3 separate regions of the Homo sapiens genome follow, and regions 1 and 3 are each linked to region 2. Evidence: fine-mapped expression QTL. A gene starts in region 2. Each other region holds a variant in brackets. All regions are shown on one strand. Distances are from middle to middle.

The links. PIP is the estimated chance that this variant, and not a neighbour inherited with it, causes the effect.
Region 1: its variant is fine-mapped to the expression of ARMH4 in testis (GTEx, PIP 0.98).
Region 3: its variant is fine-mapped to the expression of ARMH4 in visceral fat (GTEx, PIP above 0.99).

What each region holds. Positions count from the first base shown.
Region 1 is chr14:57,991,853-57,997,083 of GRCh38, forward strand. No RefSeq gene overlaps it. Among named protein-coding and RNA genes, the nearest start is that of SLC35F4, 130 kb to the left of the region's middle. The variant CAG/C (reference allele first, on the strand shown) is at 2,454.
Region 2 is chr14:58,149,281-58,154,511 of GRCh38, forward strand. ARMH4 (armadillo like helical domain containing 4) reads right to left here and starts at 2,933. Exons shown (of 8, transcript NM_001001872.4): 1 at 2,795-2,933. RefSeq lists silencers at 2,468-2,657, 2,758-2,977, 2,871-3,165, 3,058-3,127.
Region 3 is chr14:58,096,605-58,101,835 of GRCh38, forward strand. It overlaps ARMH4 (armadillo like helical domain containing 4), which reads right to left. Exons shown (of 8, transcript NM_001001872.4): 5 at 120-377. It also overlaps the pseudogene LOC100420347. Among named protein-coding and RNA genes, the nearest start is that of ARMH4, 53 kb to the right of the region's middle. The variant G/T (reference allele first, on the strand shown) is at 2,214.

The sequences.
Region 1 (5,231 bases), 160 kb before region 2:
TCCAGTTCTACTGTTCCAGCTGATCCCAAGATCATAATATTCTTCATCTCCCTCCTCCACTATCCACTTTAGACTTTTCTCACCCTTGCCTGATGTAGGCTCATTAACATCTTGCCTGATCTAGATTGCTTGCTTGGAGGGTGACCTTGAGTGTGAGAATGACAGCACAATCCACCAATGTGAGTCTCCTGATACACTTCCATACAGATCCTCTGGCTTTCATGACATGCCTTATGTTGCTAATTAACAAACCTGAGCCTGTCATTTTCTTCATTTGCTTTTTTCAAAGCCTCCAAAGCAGTCTAAACACACCAGCCAGCTCAATCCTTGTTATTACCATTGCTCCTGTACTATTTAAGGACCACGGCTATCACACCACCCAATGCTCTGCCTCTGCCTGCACCTCATCCCAATCCACCTCAGTAAGAGTCTTAGTAACTGAGATGGCGCTGGCCAGATACCACCACTCCACCCACCTCCAAAAATGGAGTCCTTATTACCTCTGAACAGTGAGTGATCTCACTCCAAAATCCCAATTATTGTAGCCTGAGTTCCCCTGAAAGCAGGACCTCAGACAAAGTCTTGCATGCAAGTAGCAGTGAAACAAGGAAAGAGAGAAGGCCAATACAAGGATGAATTTTCAAGGTAGCATTGCAATGGACAACCAGTGCTCAATCCTAAGGACTATTCTGAGAAGCCTCATGAAACGTATCTGAGAACCGGCCACATGAGCAACAAATGGTGGGAGGATTTATCCATCAGTTTCCATCCTCATTCGTTAAGGCCCACCAGGTTAGCCCCCCTAACATTTCCAGGTTGTACATGTGTGAGTGACAAGTGAAACCCCACAATAACCCACACCCTGGCAAACTGGTGGAAGCCTGTGCCAAACTAAATGCTACTTAGGTGACTGGAATAAAAGATAGGATTTGAAGTGTCTGTTACACTTCCTCTAAGAGGTGTCTGATACACTCCCTCTAAGATGTCCCTTAGGTTCCTATTTTCCCAGGATCATTCCAGTTTATGCCTGTTATCCCATTGTAATTAACAGTGTCCCCACTTTTTTGTTTTTGAGATAAGGTCTCATTCCATCACCCAGGCTGGAGTGCAGTGGCATGATCATGGCTCACTGCAGCCTTGACCTCCCAGGCTCAAGTGATCATCCCATCTTAACCTCCCAAGTATCTGGGTCCACAGAGGCACATCACCACATCTGGCTAATTTTTAATTTTTGGTAGACACAGGGTCTCCCTACATTGCCCAGGCTGGACTCAAACTCCTGGACTCAAGTGATCCATGTGAGCCAGCGCACCCAGCTGTGCCCCTTTCACTCTCAATTGTATCCCAGTTTAGACCATAAGGATATATTCACTTAGTGCACTCGCTCTCTCTCTTTCTCTCTCTCTCATACACAGACACCCATCCCCCCCACCTTCTACCCACCTTCCAACACACACACACACACACACACACACACACACACTTTGAGAAGCACAAAAACAATCCCCCATAGAATTGGTTTATTCATAGTTGTTTTCTTCTTCATGGTTGTTTTTCTTATTTTTTACTGCCCTTTGCAGAAACGTCTCTTGATACAATGCATTTTGCGTTCATTGAAATAAATGAAGAGTGCATCCAAAGAAACCACCTTCTACTAAATCTTTAAACAAGGAACAGGTCTTGTGCCACACATTGCATTTTAATAAACTTAATTTAATGAAGCGCTGCATTCCACAAGTACAGTCAGTACAGTAGCTCTCCTTTGGGATGGAAAAATTACAAGAAGCAATGCCGAGGACCGTGAACTGTATACAGAAGCCTTGTGGATCTAGAAACCAACAGTGTGTGAACTTAGGACATTCTCAAGTTTTAAAACGTGGCCATTATAATATCATCACATTACATAAATATCACATCACCAATATTCGTTTTGTTTTTTTCTTTTAGAACCAAAAAAAAATGCTTGTAAACTGCAAAATTACTTTAGATCACTGCGATAAATCTGAATTAACTACTAGGTACCGTCAGCCCTTCATATTTGTGAGTTACACATCTGTGGATTCAACCAACCCTGGATGGAAAATACTCAGAAAAAAAAATCAGTACAGAGTAGTGTCTGTACTAAACAGGTACACACTTTTTTTTCTTGTCATTATTCACTAAATACAGTAATAACAACTAATTACATAGCATTTACATATTAAGTATTATATGTTTAGAGATGATATAAAGTATACTTGAGGATGTGCATAGGTTATTCGCAAATACTACACCAAGTTATGTAAGGCGCTTGAGCATCCATGAATTTTGTTATCAGCAGGGAGTTCTGGAACCAATCCCCCATGGATACCTAGAGACAACTGTAATTGCAAACTACTTCAGTGAATAACAGAAGCTAACTAAAAACTTAGTTCTGAATGATTGGATTGTCTGTTGCACTCTACCTACTGAAG[CAG/C]AGTGTTTACATGGCCACAGGTAATTCATTCAGTAATTTCAGGGTATGACTCAAGATGCAGTATTCTTCTCTGCGGCTCTTCGCCTTGGAGCACTTGGAAGATGCATTATCTGCTGAAAAACCAATGTTCAGTGTGGGCTGATATAATAAAAATTAAATACTTTAAAAACTGAATCAAAATCATAGCTAAAAATCAATGCTATATAGTTTCTATGACATGAAAAATCTGTGAACAAATCATTTATTACAGGTCTTGTTTTATGTTTCTCTTGTCAAAGATAATTATTTATTACAAGTGAGGTTTCTGCCATCAGCAGAGTCAAGGGTAACCTGGAGTGCCTACCTCTTTGAATTGTGATACTCAATCGAGTTTATCCATGTTAAGTACTGAGCACAGCACTTGGCCTACAGCAAGAGCTCAAGAAGTATTTGTGATTTTATTATCGCTAAGTAAAAATAAATTTGAGTTTCACTAAGATTTTTGAAATTCACATTTTATTTGCATGGCATAAAACTAGCCTATTCAACAACTCCCCATAATTAAACTTGAAAAGATCCTGATTATTTATAACAGAAAATAATTATGTCCCTAATTCATTTATTTGCCTTTTTTTTTTCTGGTTGCCTTTGATTGACTTCTGACCTTAAGCATGAACAGAAATGTGTGCTAAAAAGCCTGGTCTTTCCAGTGAAGAGTCAATCAGTTTGCCAAATGCTTACTCCATAATTTTAATCTAATAACATTTTACTAATAACATTTTATGAACAAGAACTTACTTTCACATCCAGACAATATTTTTAGAATAAAGCTCATTGCACCTTATAATGTGCTTTATTTAATGTCATCTTCTACCATGTGCAAGAAGTTTGGGGGAGTATGGGCTAGTAGAGATGTTTACAAAGGTCTTGATTGAAAGACCCACAGGGCTTTGTTAATTGGTTTTAAAGATACTTACAATTTCTCTGCAAATACATAGAACAAAGACAATAAAACGTTATTTAGTAAGATATAAGTCCTATTGAATCAGTTGGTACCCACTTTCATTTATAGACCCTTCAGAGCTGAAAGGGATGGGGAAGAGGGTGGATGAAGAAGGTCTAATGGAGAATACACAGAAGAAGCAGAAGCCATGGCTCCTCTTTTTAACAATGACAGAGAAAGGAAAACAATGGACATAGCAATAAACATTTGCTCATTTAATTTTAGTCAAGTTAAATCAAATGTAAAAAATGTGTGCCCTATAATAATAAATGACACAAAAATACTAATTAGATTCAAGAGAGTTGAACTGAATAACCCTTTAATCAATTTAAGTCACACAGTAAGTGTCCTTTTCCCCAGTATTTCTCATAATACTACATATTAATTGCGCTTATGGTTATTCAGTCTTATTATTTAATTATAAAAGCTTATAGCTTTTACTTTGGGGGCAAAGACAAAGAGAAGAAAGTGTTCTCTAATCCCTTAAGGAACAAGAATATGACATTTGCCAATGTGCGTTGTGTTTATGGAGACTTCTTTCAACTCTGTTCTTATTTTCATCCTATGGAGGCATCCTGAGGTAAATGGGCAGTTATGGACCATCAAATGCGAAATAAATGTTTTAATGAGGAAACACAGCTTGCTCGTTCAAATACAACTTAGGATTTTCACAAGCTGTTTTCCTTTCTTCTATTCCTCTTAAAACAACCATGGGAAAACATAGCTACAGAGAGGTAACAAAATACTATGTAAATTATAATCCTGATTTTGTATAAAAATAAAAGTATTTATTGCATATCATAAATGCATAGGAAAAAAAAGATTAGAAAAGTACAGACCAAAATGTTACCAATGTTTATTATTGTTAACATTTCGGGTGGGACTGGAATGATAATTATTCTTAAGTTTTTCTGAATTTTCTCAATTCTGCATATCATTGTCCCTGAGGCCCTCCAGAATCTGGCCTTGTGCTGATATGGCAACTATGGGAAACTTGCTTTATTTTTTATATGCTAAGGAAGGTAAGTGGCTTGACGATTGCCCGTAAGAACTGTCAAAAGGCCACAGAAACTGCTCAGCACCAGGACACAGAGCTGCATTGCTTGATTCTGCAGGCTGCACATCTAAGACCAGATGTTGTCCTCATACATACCAGCCCTGAGAAAAAAGTTTCTTGGATTTGTTTTCAAGAAAAACAAGATATTGAGCTTTGTTCCCTTGTCAAAGAATAAGAAACTCTCCTATTAGCCTTTACAAATCAAGACAGTCAAACAGATCTGAGATAGTAACTCATATCTAGGGATCAACCAAAGTAATCCCCTAAAGGTATTAGGAGAATTTTCCCAGATATTTAAGTTTCATTAAATGCAAAGTTAGTTCACTGGTACCTACTATTAAAAGTAACAGAAAATGGCGAGGTGCAGTGGCTCATGCCTGTAATTCCAACAGCTCAGGAGGCTGAGGCAGCATAGCTTGAGCCCAGGCGTTCGAGACCAGCCTGGGCAACATAGTGAGACCCTGTCTCTACAAAAAATAAAAAAAAAAAAAATAGCTGAGAGTGCTGACACACATCTGTAGTCCTAGCTACTCAGGAAGTTAAGGGGGAAGGATCACTTAAGCCCAAGAGTTTGAGGCTGCAGTAAGCCATGATTGCACCATTGCACTATAGCCTGAGTGACAGAGTAAGACCCTGTCTCAAAAAAAGTAAACAAAAGAAGTCACAGAAAATGACCACACATTTACACTTTGTAAAAATTAATGCTGCCTATACATTTCTGGCAGGCTTGTAGGTTA
Region 2 (5,231 bases):
CTGTTATATTGGCTTTAGGATCTAGGCTGCAGCTATACTTCACCATAAATTAAATAGCTGAATGACAAACAATCCTTTCAGCAGCATGTTCCATCACAATGGAAGGAGGGAGAAGGAGTAAGTAACCACAAAGAAAAGCATGGTCCCCCAGGAGGAAAGCAGCCCCAGAGCTGGCAGGGAAGAGGGTAAGTAGGCTGGGGTCAAAATAGCTAAATTACTGGAAACTAAATACCAGTAAAAAGTACTTTACCATCCCTGAAGACCACACCTAAGTTCTACATACTGAGCCCAGGAGCTTCAGTCTCTACAAATTAGTGATGTAGACAAATGAAGATATCCGTGCTTATCACCCCTAGCATATCATCTCATCCCTGGTAAAAGGAGATGGACTTGAAGATTTAAAAACAGGCTTCTTCGAGTTCCAGTTCTACCTTAGGCAAATCACTGAAACTCAAGTTTTCTTGTTGCAAAGTAGAAATAATAATGCTGGTTATATTTTTTCAAAGGGTGGAGAACACACACAAAAGTGATAATAGACATAAAAGCAGTTTGAAACAAAAGTAAATTATCATGCAATAGAAGACATACTAGCATGCTACTGACATGCATTCCTGTCAAATACAGAAATGTGAGCAATTTGGAGCATCTGTAACATCAGCCACAAATGGAGTAGCATTTTTTTCCCCAAGGTACTTTCATGGAGCTTCTCCTTTCAGCTTTATCATGTAGACAATGTGACCTGAGAGGGTTCTGCTGTCTGCAGAATCCTATCCTGATGAATCTTGATCAACAAACTCTTCTCCATCCATCAGACAGTTTATTTCAGTGACCCAATTGGACATATCATTTCTGGTTTTTGTGGTACACAAATGTAGCCATTTGCTTGGCTAGATCTCTAAGTAGCTGACATTTAAAGGGAAGCTGAAACTAGCTTCAGATACTTCTCTTATAATCACCAAGTAAACACAATATGGAAAAATAAGATTGACCTCACATCTTGCTTAGGGAATGAGTTTTCATTTTACAAAAATTAAAAGCAGTTTCCCTCTGCATAGACAGCTTCCCTATGTGAGAAGTTTTTTAAGTTCAATTAACAAAAATACAATTCCATACACCACTTTTCAGACAAACATCTACAGAATAAAGGGCAAAGGACACCTTTAGGTGGGGAGTGGACATTTTCCACAGCAGATAAACCCGTTTTCCTCATTTTGATTCTACACTTATATTTAGCATCGAACCATTTCCGTAATACCAAATTATAATATTGTAAAGGTCTGGCAGGAAACTCCGGAATATGTAGTAAGAAGCCTCCCATGAAAACAAAGACAAATTCACATCTCTCTAATTGGCTCCGTTGCTGTAGCTACCTTAGACTTGGTGAGCCTTGGGAGTTTCTATGAATAAACTCAACTAATATCAAATCTGTCTGCTGCACAAGTGCTCGGTTCATTATTGTGACAAATACAAAAAAAAAACCACTTTATTCATAAGAGCAAGTCAGAGTACCTTTAAACCTCTGTGTGTAAAAGAAGCAATGTTCTGATACTGTGAAACCTTAGCCGGTTGTGTGTTTCAATAGATGCTACTGTGGGGTTCTACTGGCATACGTGCCGAAGTCAGTCAATGACTGTAGATGCTTGGCTAAAAGGAGACTCCCTGGAGCCCAACAGCATCACTTGTGATCAAGGAAATACACCAAAATAAAGAGAAGGCATGTGAATTCTGACCACTCAAGAATTTTTGCCCTTTGGAGAAGAGATCCTTCAGAACCCTAGGGATGGTTTTGTGAACCACTCCCCACTCCCCCTCAAGTTTCAAACTAAAACTTCCAAAGAAAGAAGGCAGACACTTTAAAGCAGCCATCTCTCCTCTCTTCCACATCAGTTCTGCACTGAAATTGGATGCCAAGTGCTAGGCGGATCCTCGGGATCATCTCATCTTTGAGAACCCAAACTCTTAAGGGTCCTGTTTTGTTCACTCCTGCTTGCCTCCTCGCCAGCCAAGGTTCTACATGTTTGGAATCTACACAAGTCAGATTCTGTCAGTGACCACGAGGCACATGAGACATTTGGGCACCTCCGGCAGCACCTCCCAACTATTCCGGAGTCTCAAGCAGAGCCTCGCCTCCCCCAGGTCTAACCCGCAGGCCCTCTTTCTAATTAAGTGACCTTTCCAAGGAGCGTCCTCCAGCCGCGTCCTGGGGGACGAGTCAGGGGCTGAGCAAGGAGGCTCGACATCTCTGCGCTAAACACTCAACTGTTTGTTTTCTGCAAAGTGGCAGGACATATTTCGGTGGTGACCGCAGCAACGATTCGCTCCTCGATTGTTAGGCTCTGAGTGGCATTGGGGACACTGCGATCGACGGTTTGAAAGGAGTAAACCGTTGTTTTCGGGAACTTCTCTCTCACTGCTGTGGGATTGCGAGCGGAGGGAGAAAGAGAAAGAAAAGCCCACACAAAAGCAGCCAGCCCTGCAAGCTCCGCCAGCACAAAGGCCGGCTCGCTGGTGCGGAGCTGGGAGGCTGGGCTGGAGCTAGGAGTGCGGTGAGTCCTCCGAGGCCTGCGCGCCGCGCCCAGCGCGCCCAGAGCTGCCCCCGCGCACCCCACACCTGGGCACCGCGCTCCGGAGGAGGATCGGGGCGCACGCCTGGCGCACCCAGGGCTGCAACGCTCCCGGGACTGTTACGCTCGCGGAGCGACCCCACGCCACTGAGGCTCCGGTTCCGTCCCTGCCCCGGCGCCACGTCTGCAGCCGCGGCCGCCCAAGTGGCCGGAGCCGGGCCCGTCCTCACCTGTGCGCCTTCAGCTGAGCAGCGCGCGGAGGACAGAGGCAGCGGCGGCGCGGGCGCTCGGCATCCCAGCGGCGGGCCCTGCGGCGGCGGCGGCGGTAGCGGCGGCGACTCCCTCCGCTGTCTGGGACGCTAGGGGGAGGGCGCTTCGCTTTGTTGCTTATTCATAAGGCCGCGGCTACGGCCGGGGATTGGGCGGTGAGTAGGTGTGCCCGCCCTGGCTCTGCTGGCACTGACAGCCGACGCCGTCGCCCACGCCCCCCTGCGCCCACTTCCCCGCCTCCGCTCTCCCGCGGGGGCGGCTTCTGCTGGAGTCCCGGCACCTGGGACCCCTCGGAGATCCCGTGCTCCGCTTCCCCTCTTTAAGCGGGAGCTTCTGCGGCAGCTCGCCTCCCTATCTACGCGGAAGAGACCAGGGCACCGTTTACACGAGAAAAACCTCAATTTTGCTGTCTTTGGTTCAGGCAAGGAGCGCAAATCTGAGACTGCAGTGTTCCTTGTGGAAACTATGGACGGCTTGGCGGTGCCCTTAAGTAGGACCCTTAAAGTAACTCTACACAGAATGTCCCTTCTCAGTCCGTCGGAGAAGTTGCAAACTAGTGCTAGTCACAAGTAAGGTTTATTGAGCCCTTACTCCTGCCAGGCACAAGAGTAGATGCTTTGCCCATTACTTTACCTGCTTAATCTGCACGATAGAAGGGTAGATATTGTAGTTCTCATTTACCAGGGTAGGAGGTTAAGGCTAAGGGCTGTGTAACTTCTCCAAGGTCATCCGGCTCGCGTGGCCACCGGGAATTTGTGTCCTCCATTCTTGAGCCTCTCAAGGACTGTTTTCTTTTTCTGTTACTTCTAATGGTGTGGAAAGAGGTGTCGGAATCTAAAGGCCCGTTTTGGAACAACCTCCACAACGCAGCATTTTACATTTGCAGAGCACTCTTCACATTTGTCCCTTATTGTGCTTATTAGCTCCCTTCTTCATAATACCTTAGTCCCCTTTTGTAGTTAATTATAAACACCTTGAAGTCAGAGCAAAAGCTGGCTCACCTTTGACCCCCACACCTAACACAATGCACAGGTATGTACTGGTTTCTGTTTGTTTGTTTGTTTGTTTTTGAGACAGGATCTCACTCTTTCCCCCAGGCTGGAGTGCAGTGGCGCCATCATGGCTCACTGCAGCCTCGACCTCCTCCTGGGACCTCAAGCCATCACCCACCTCAGCCTCCTAAGTAGCTGGGACCACAGGCATGCGGCACCACGACTGGCTAATTTTTTATTATTATTATTATTATTATTATTATTATTATTATTATTATTATTGGTAAAGATGGGGTCTTCCTATCTTGCCCTGGCTAGTTTCAAACTCCTGGACTCAAGCGATCCTCCTGCCTCGGTCTACCGAAGTGTTTGAATTATAGACATGTGCCACGGTGCCCAGCAGGTATGCACTGTTACCCATTCCCCCTCCCTTTAGAAATTATTATCTATGTATAATCATGCATTGATTAATTAGGGGAATACATTCTAAGAAATGTATCCTTAGGCAATTTTGTTGTTATGCGAGCATAATAGTATACTTACACAAACCTAGATGGCATAGCCTACTACGTACCAAGGCTATATGGTATAGCCTATTGCTCCTAGGCTACAAGCCTGTACAGCATGTTACTGTACTCAGTACTGTAGGCAATTGTAACACAATGGTATTTCTATATCTAAACATTGAAACAATACAGTAAAAATACAGTATAAAAGATAAAAAATGGTGCATCTGTATAGAGCACTTACCATAAATGGAGCTTATAGGACTGGAAGTTGCTCTGGGTGAGTCAACGAATGATGAGTGAGAATATGAAGACCTAGGACATAACTGTACACTACTGTAATGTACGTAACCTTACACTACTGACATAACTGTATACTATTGTACATAACTACACTACTGTAGTTATGTAGGCTATAACTGTATGCTACACTACTACTGTAGTGTAAACAATGTACACTTAGGCTGTACTGTAGACATAAACATTTTTTCTTCAATAATAAATTAACCATAGCTTACCTGAATTTTTTACTTTATAAATTTTTTTTAACTTTTGACTCTTTTTTTCTTTGAGACAGGGTCTCACTCTGTCACCCAGGCTGGAGTCCAGTGGTACAATCACAGTTCACTGCAGCCTGGACCTCCTAACCTCAAGCAATCCTCCTGCCTCAGCCTCCCCAGTAGTTGGGACTACGGGCACATGCCACCACGGCTGGGTAACTTTTGACTCTTTTGTAATAACACAGCTTAAAACACAAACATATTGTACAGCTGTTCAAAAATATTTCATTTCTTTATTTCCTTATTCTATAAGCCTTTTTCTATTTAAAAAACAAAATTTTAAAAGGCCAGGTGGGTCATGTCTGTAATATCAGCACTTTGGTAGGCTGAGGCGGGTGG
Region 3 (5,231 bases), 53 kb before region 2:
CCCATAAACAAAGAAAATCCATTTTTCTTTACAATAGATGGCAATGAAAGAAGGCTGTCATCTGAGAAATATAAAAGGAGGGGAGAAGGGAGGAAAAGGGAAATACACATGACTCTTACCCAGGCCTTGATTCTGCTGTTCCCACTCGAGGGCATCTGGCACCTGGTAGGTAGCTCCCTCCAACAGGTCCATGTTTCCCTCCTCTAAGCCTGGTTCCTGGGATGTGATACCAGGGAGGGTAAAACCTGGCAGCTCAGTGTCACCATCCAAGCCCTCATCCAGCGAGTCTGCATCTTTATCTTCCTCATCTTCTTCCTCATCTTCCTCTTCTTCATCTTCATCTTCTTCATCCTCTTCATCCTCATCTTCTTGTCCCTCTAGGCAAAAAGAAATCAAAGGGAAGCATAAACATATAATGAGTTTATGCTGAAACAAATGAATCCTTGGAAATGATCCAAACACTACAAAATAATTGTTTGGCCTTTTGAAACACATCTTTATAGCCAAAGTCAGACAATGTGAACTTTGCAGGATTATACACCCACCATATGTCCTAGAGTTTAAACTTTCAAAACCATAGTTATGTCAGATAAGTATCAGGTATTATGTTTACTGGGAGTCAAAGTTCAAGTAATATGATTTGTTATTAAAGTTATTTATATTTACAAGGGTAGTAAACATCCCCTTGCTGTTTTCTGGAGATCATTAAAAGTTTATCAGTTAGCACACTGTGAAATACTAACAGAACTTAAAAGAAGCTGTTCCCATCCCTTTATAGCTCATAATGTTAAAGGAGACAATTCATTATTTTGGCACAGCTTTTTCTATTCATCCACATCAGTGAGTAGAACTCACAAAAATGGTAAGTGAGGAGCACATAAATTCACTCTTGGATCTTGTTCTCTCTAAGGAAGAGTAATCCAAGAAACTGGAAATAATTGCATCAACATTCTCAATCCAACTCTAAAGGAATTGGGAAGTGGGATATTCACCAGGAGTGGTCAGAAAGGCAGCACATTAAAAATTACCATTATCTTCATTGTAAGAGTTAACATTCACAATTCGTCGTTTTCTTGATTTTTTTTTTTTTATTTTTTATTTATTTATTTATTTATTTTTGAGACGGAGTCTTGCTCTGTCACCCAGGCTGGAGTGCAGTGGCGTGATCATGGTTCACCACAGTCTCAGACTCCTGGACTCAAGCCATCCTCCTCCCTCGGCCTCCCACAATGCTAGTATTATAGGCGTGAGCCATGGCACTTCACCACAAGCTGTCATTTTCAATGCTCCAAGTGGAGTGGGTTTAAGGAACATATGATTCCCAATTTCATTTTGTTTCACCAATGTTAATTTCCTAGTAATACTTCAAGGCCCCATCCTCACCATGGATGCACCTCTGAAGCCCCTGGTAAGTGCCCACAAAGTTCACAGAAGGCCTTCCCTTTGCTCTCTCCCCTTGACTCTCGGCACAGCAGTTACTGCAACAGGTAATTCTCCTCCTATGGTGGAGAAAAGAAGGGAAGAAGAAGAACTGGAGCCACCCAAGAATTGTGAGACTCTCCTTTTCTGCTTCTACACAACTTTCTCCACCCATACTACCTTTCCTCTATCATTCAGAGGCTTTTTAACTTTTAAAAAAAATCACCTTTAATCTTTTTTTATTCTTATATGTCCTTTAACTTTGTAGGATTAATGTCTGTCACTATTCTAAAAATTCAACAAATATGTATCAACCCCCTAACGGGTGCCGTTGCAGACACTAGGGATAAAAGCAATAACGTCTCTGCCTTCGTGGAGCCCATGTGCCACCCAGGGAGACTCACAGCAAACAAACAGATACACCAATAGGCAGGTGACTCTACACTCTCATTAAAACTGGCAAGAAGATAGAAAACGCCAGGCACTGCTATTTTAGAAAGGGTGATTAAAGAAAGCTTTTCTGACAAGGTAAAGTTTGAACAGAGGCCACACCAAAATAATGCATTCTTTTGTTTAATTTAAGTCAACATCTACAGGAAGAGCATTCCCAGTGGAGGAAATGGCAAGGACCTAATCCTTGAGGCAGGTGTGGCCTCGCTGTGTTCAAACAATGGCAAAGAAGCCTGGGCTGGGAGGCACAGGGCAAATACAGGAAATGAGGTAGGAAGAAGTAGGCAGGGGCCAGATCTGACTTTTTTTTTTTTTAAGTCTTTTATTTATTTCAATAGGTTTTT[G/T]GGGAACAGGTAGTACTGACTTATATTTTTAAAGAATGACTCTAGCAGCAGGGTGGAGAACAGGCTATATCAAAGCAAGAGATGAAAAAAGAAGGCTGACAAGGAGTCCACTTAAAAACCAGGAATAGATTATGGTGCTTTGGACTAGGGTACAATCTGGAAAGAGGAGAGAGGTAGTCATATCGGGGATGTAATTTCAAGGTAGAACCCTGCTGATAAGTACAATGTGAGATGCAGGAGGAAGATCCCACATGACTGAAAACGGGATCTAAAAGATAAGGAGTCAAAACAAGAATTTGCATTTGAGATACAGTAACTGTGTGATGGCCTATGGCATCCAAGGGAATGTTGGAAGTCTAGGGAAGTTTCAAAGCTAGAGATAAATTTTGGGAATTGTCAATTTATTAATAATATTCAAAGCCTTGAGACTGGCTGAGATTATCAAGAAGGTGAATATAGACAGAAAGGGAAATGGTCCAGACCACATTCCCGGGCAAAGCCACCACTTAGAGGGTGACCAGCAGAGGAAGATCCACACAGGAAACAGGAGTAACCACCAGGGTGGGAGAAAATCCAAGAAGTGTGTGGTGTCAGGGAAGGCAAATGAAGAAAGCGTCTCCAAGGGCCCGAGTAAGAGACTGAGGGTGTCCCTCTGGCTTGGACATTGGGAGGGCACGGGGGACCTTGACAAAAGTTGTTTTGGAGGAATGATATAGACAAAGGCCAGGTTGGAGTGGTTCAAAAAAAGATTAGAAAAGAAGACACAACAAACAAACAAAAAATTCTTACCAGAAATTTGGCTAAAAGGAGAACAGAGAAAATAGGGGGCAGGTGGAGAGAGACACAGGGTCAAGGGTAGGGTCTTAAAATAGAATATAGAAAATAGAACCTGCTTGTAAGTTAATGGGTCAGATCTCATCGAAAGGGGCAATCAATGAGGCAGGAAAGACAGAAGCAGCTGCGGGAGAATATCCTGGGAGACATGGTATTATACAGTGGCTGCATGCATAGACTCTGAAGCCACACAAATTTATTACGGCTGTGTGATTTTTGCACACGTTGCTGAATTTTGCTGTGCCTCAACCTCCTCGTCTGTAAAACTGATATTATTCCTACCTCACAAGGCTGTTGTAAGGATTTCATTAGTTAATTTATAAGGTACTTAAAACTAAGCCTGGTGCATACTGGACAGGTTGGCTTCTTCATAATGACTAAAAGAAGACAAGGTCCAGTGCACAGGCTGGTTTGGATACATCCTCCCCTGAAACGGTAGGAAAAAGGGAAGGCAGAGAAACAGGCATGGTGCAGGAAGGTGGGCAGATTTGGTGGGTAGGGGATCTTTATATTTCTTTTATTCTCGGTCAAATAAAAAAACTGGAAAGGAAAAGAGAAATGTTGGTGGTTTGAGGTGAGAGGAAAAAGCGTGAAATAGTCGTCTTGGAGAGTAGGCGAGTACATTCTCAGAGAAATGGGGCAGGACTGCCAGGCAGCCCTCTAGGCCCACTTCAGATGTGACATCATATATCTAAAGTGAGACCTGTTAAGATGGTTGTGAGTTTTTCTCAAGCCACATTCAGCTGCTTGGGCGCAGGCATGGGTGGAGAGGTGAGTAGGCACAGAGATTTAACCAGCAGCAAGTTTTACCAGAAGAGCTCAATTGAGAGTGTGAGGGATAGAGAGAGGGTAAGAAAGGGTACTGATTGTGTGTGAAGGAGTAATTATAAAGATGGACCAGGGACTCTAATTAAAGAGAAGTTGAAAAAGAGGCTGGATAGAGGAAACATGATGGAAATTTAGGTTATTAGGAAAACTATCAGGAACCATTAAAACTACCTGAGGACTTCCATGTCTTTATTTTAGATTCTTGACAGGTGTTTTCTCCTCCTCTTGGGGGTGGATCCGAAAGGAGTGGCACCCCTTCCTTCTCCTGGAGTGCCCCTGCCTGTACCCCCAAGACCAAGATCACAGCTTCACAATGTAGCAGGGACTCCTGGCCATCCCTCAAAAGTAACTGTTTCTGTGCTAGAAAACTGAAAAACAGCAAGGGCCAGAAGTGAACCAGAGTGCAGAGTGAGGCAGAATCAGTGAGTCAGAGTGATGACGTGGGGCCTCCATGCTAAGGCAGAAAGAAAAACAAGCAGACAGACATCCAAAGGAAAAGCCAAAGATGTTGACCAGAAGGATTAAGCTGTGGGACACTAAGGCCCACATCACCTGCCGCCTGTGTAGTGGGCACCTCATTGATGCAACCAGGGTGACCAAGTGTCTGCACACATTCTGTAGGGGTTGCCTGGTAAAGTATTTGTAAGAGAACAACACCTGCCCTGCATGTAGGACTGTGATGCGTCACACTCACTCACTGCAGTACATCGGTCATGAGAGCACCATACATGAGACTGTTTACAAATTGGTATCAGGTCTCCAAGAAGCAGAAATGAAAACAGAGAATTCTGTCACAAATTGGGCATGGAAGTGCCTAGAGACATCAAAGGGGATACTTGTTCCACAAAACAACACTTAGATTTCCATCAGAATGGTGAAATGAAAGCAGAAGACAGTTCAAACAAAGACCAAAAAAGAGAAAAAGGAAAAGGACAATGATTTTCACAGAAGTGATGAGCAGGAAAGCAACAGCAGCAAGTTGTGGGGACTGAAAAGGAAATGAATCTGCTGCATAGCCCAAGCAATGGTCTGACATCTAAAGAAGTTCACTGCCAAAAATCTTAACCTTTTGTCCTTCAATGAGGTAATAGTCAATCCATAAAGAGAAACTCAAGCAAGTCAATTCTTAGGTAAAAATGACATTTCTAAAATTACTTGGGTTTTTTTTTTTCACAACTTTGTTTGGAGATTTTAACCAGAAAAAAATCTCAATTTGTTTTGCCTGCCCTGCCCGGTAGCATGATAGAAAACAGCAGTGAGGATTGTGAAAAGCCCAGACACCATGGACATGAAGAACCCACCATTGATAGAAGAGAAAACGGGGGAGAGGGTGTGGAGAGGAGGGCAGGTGATGAA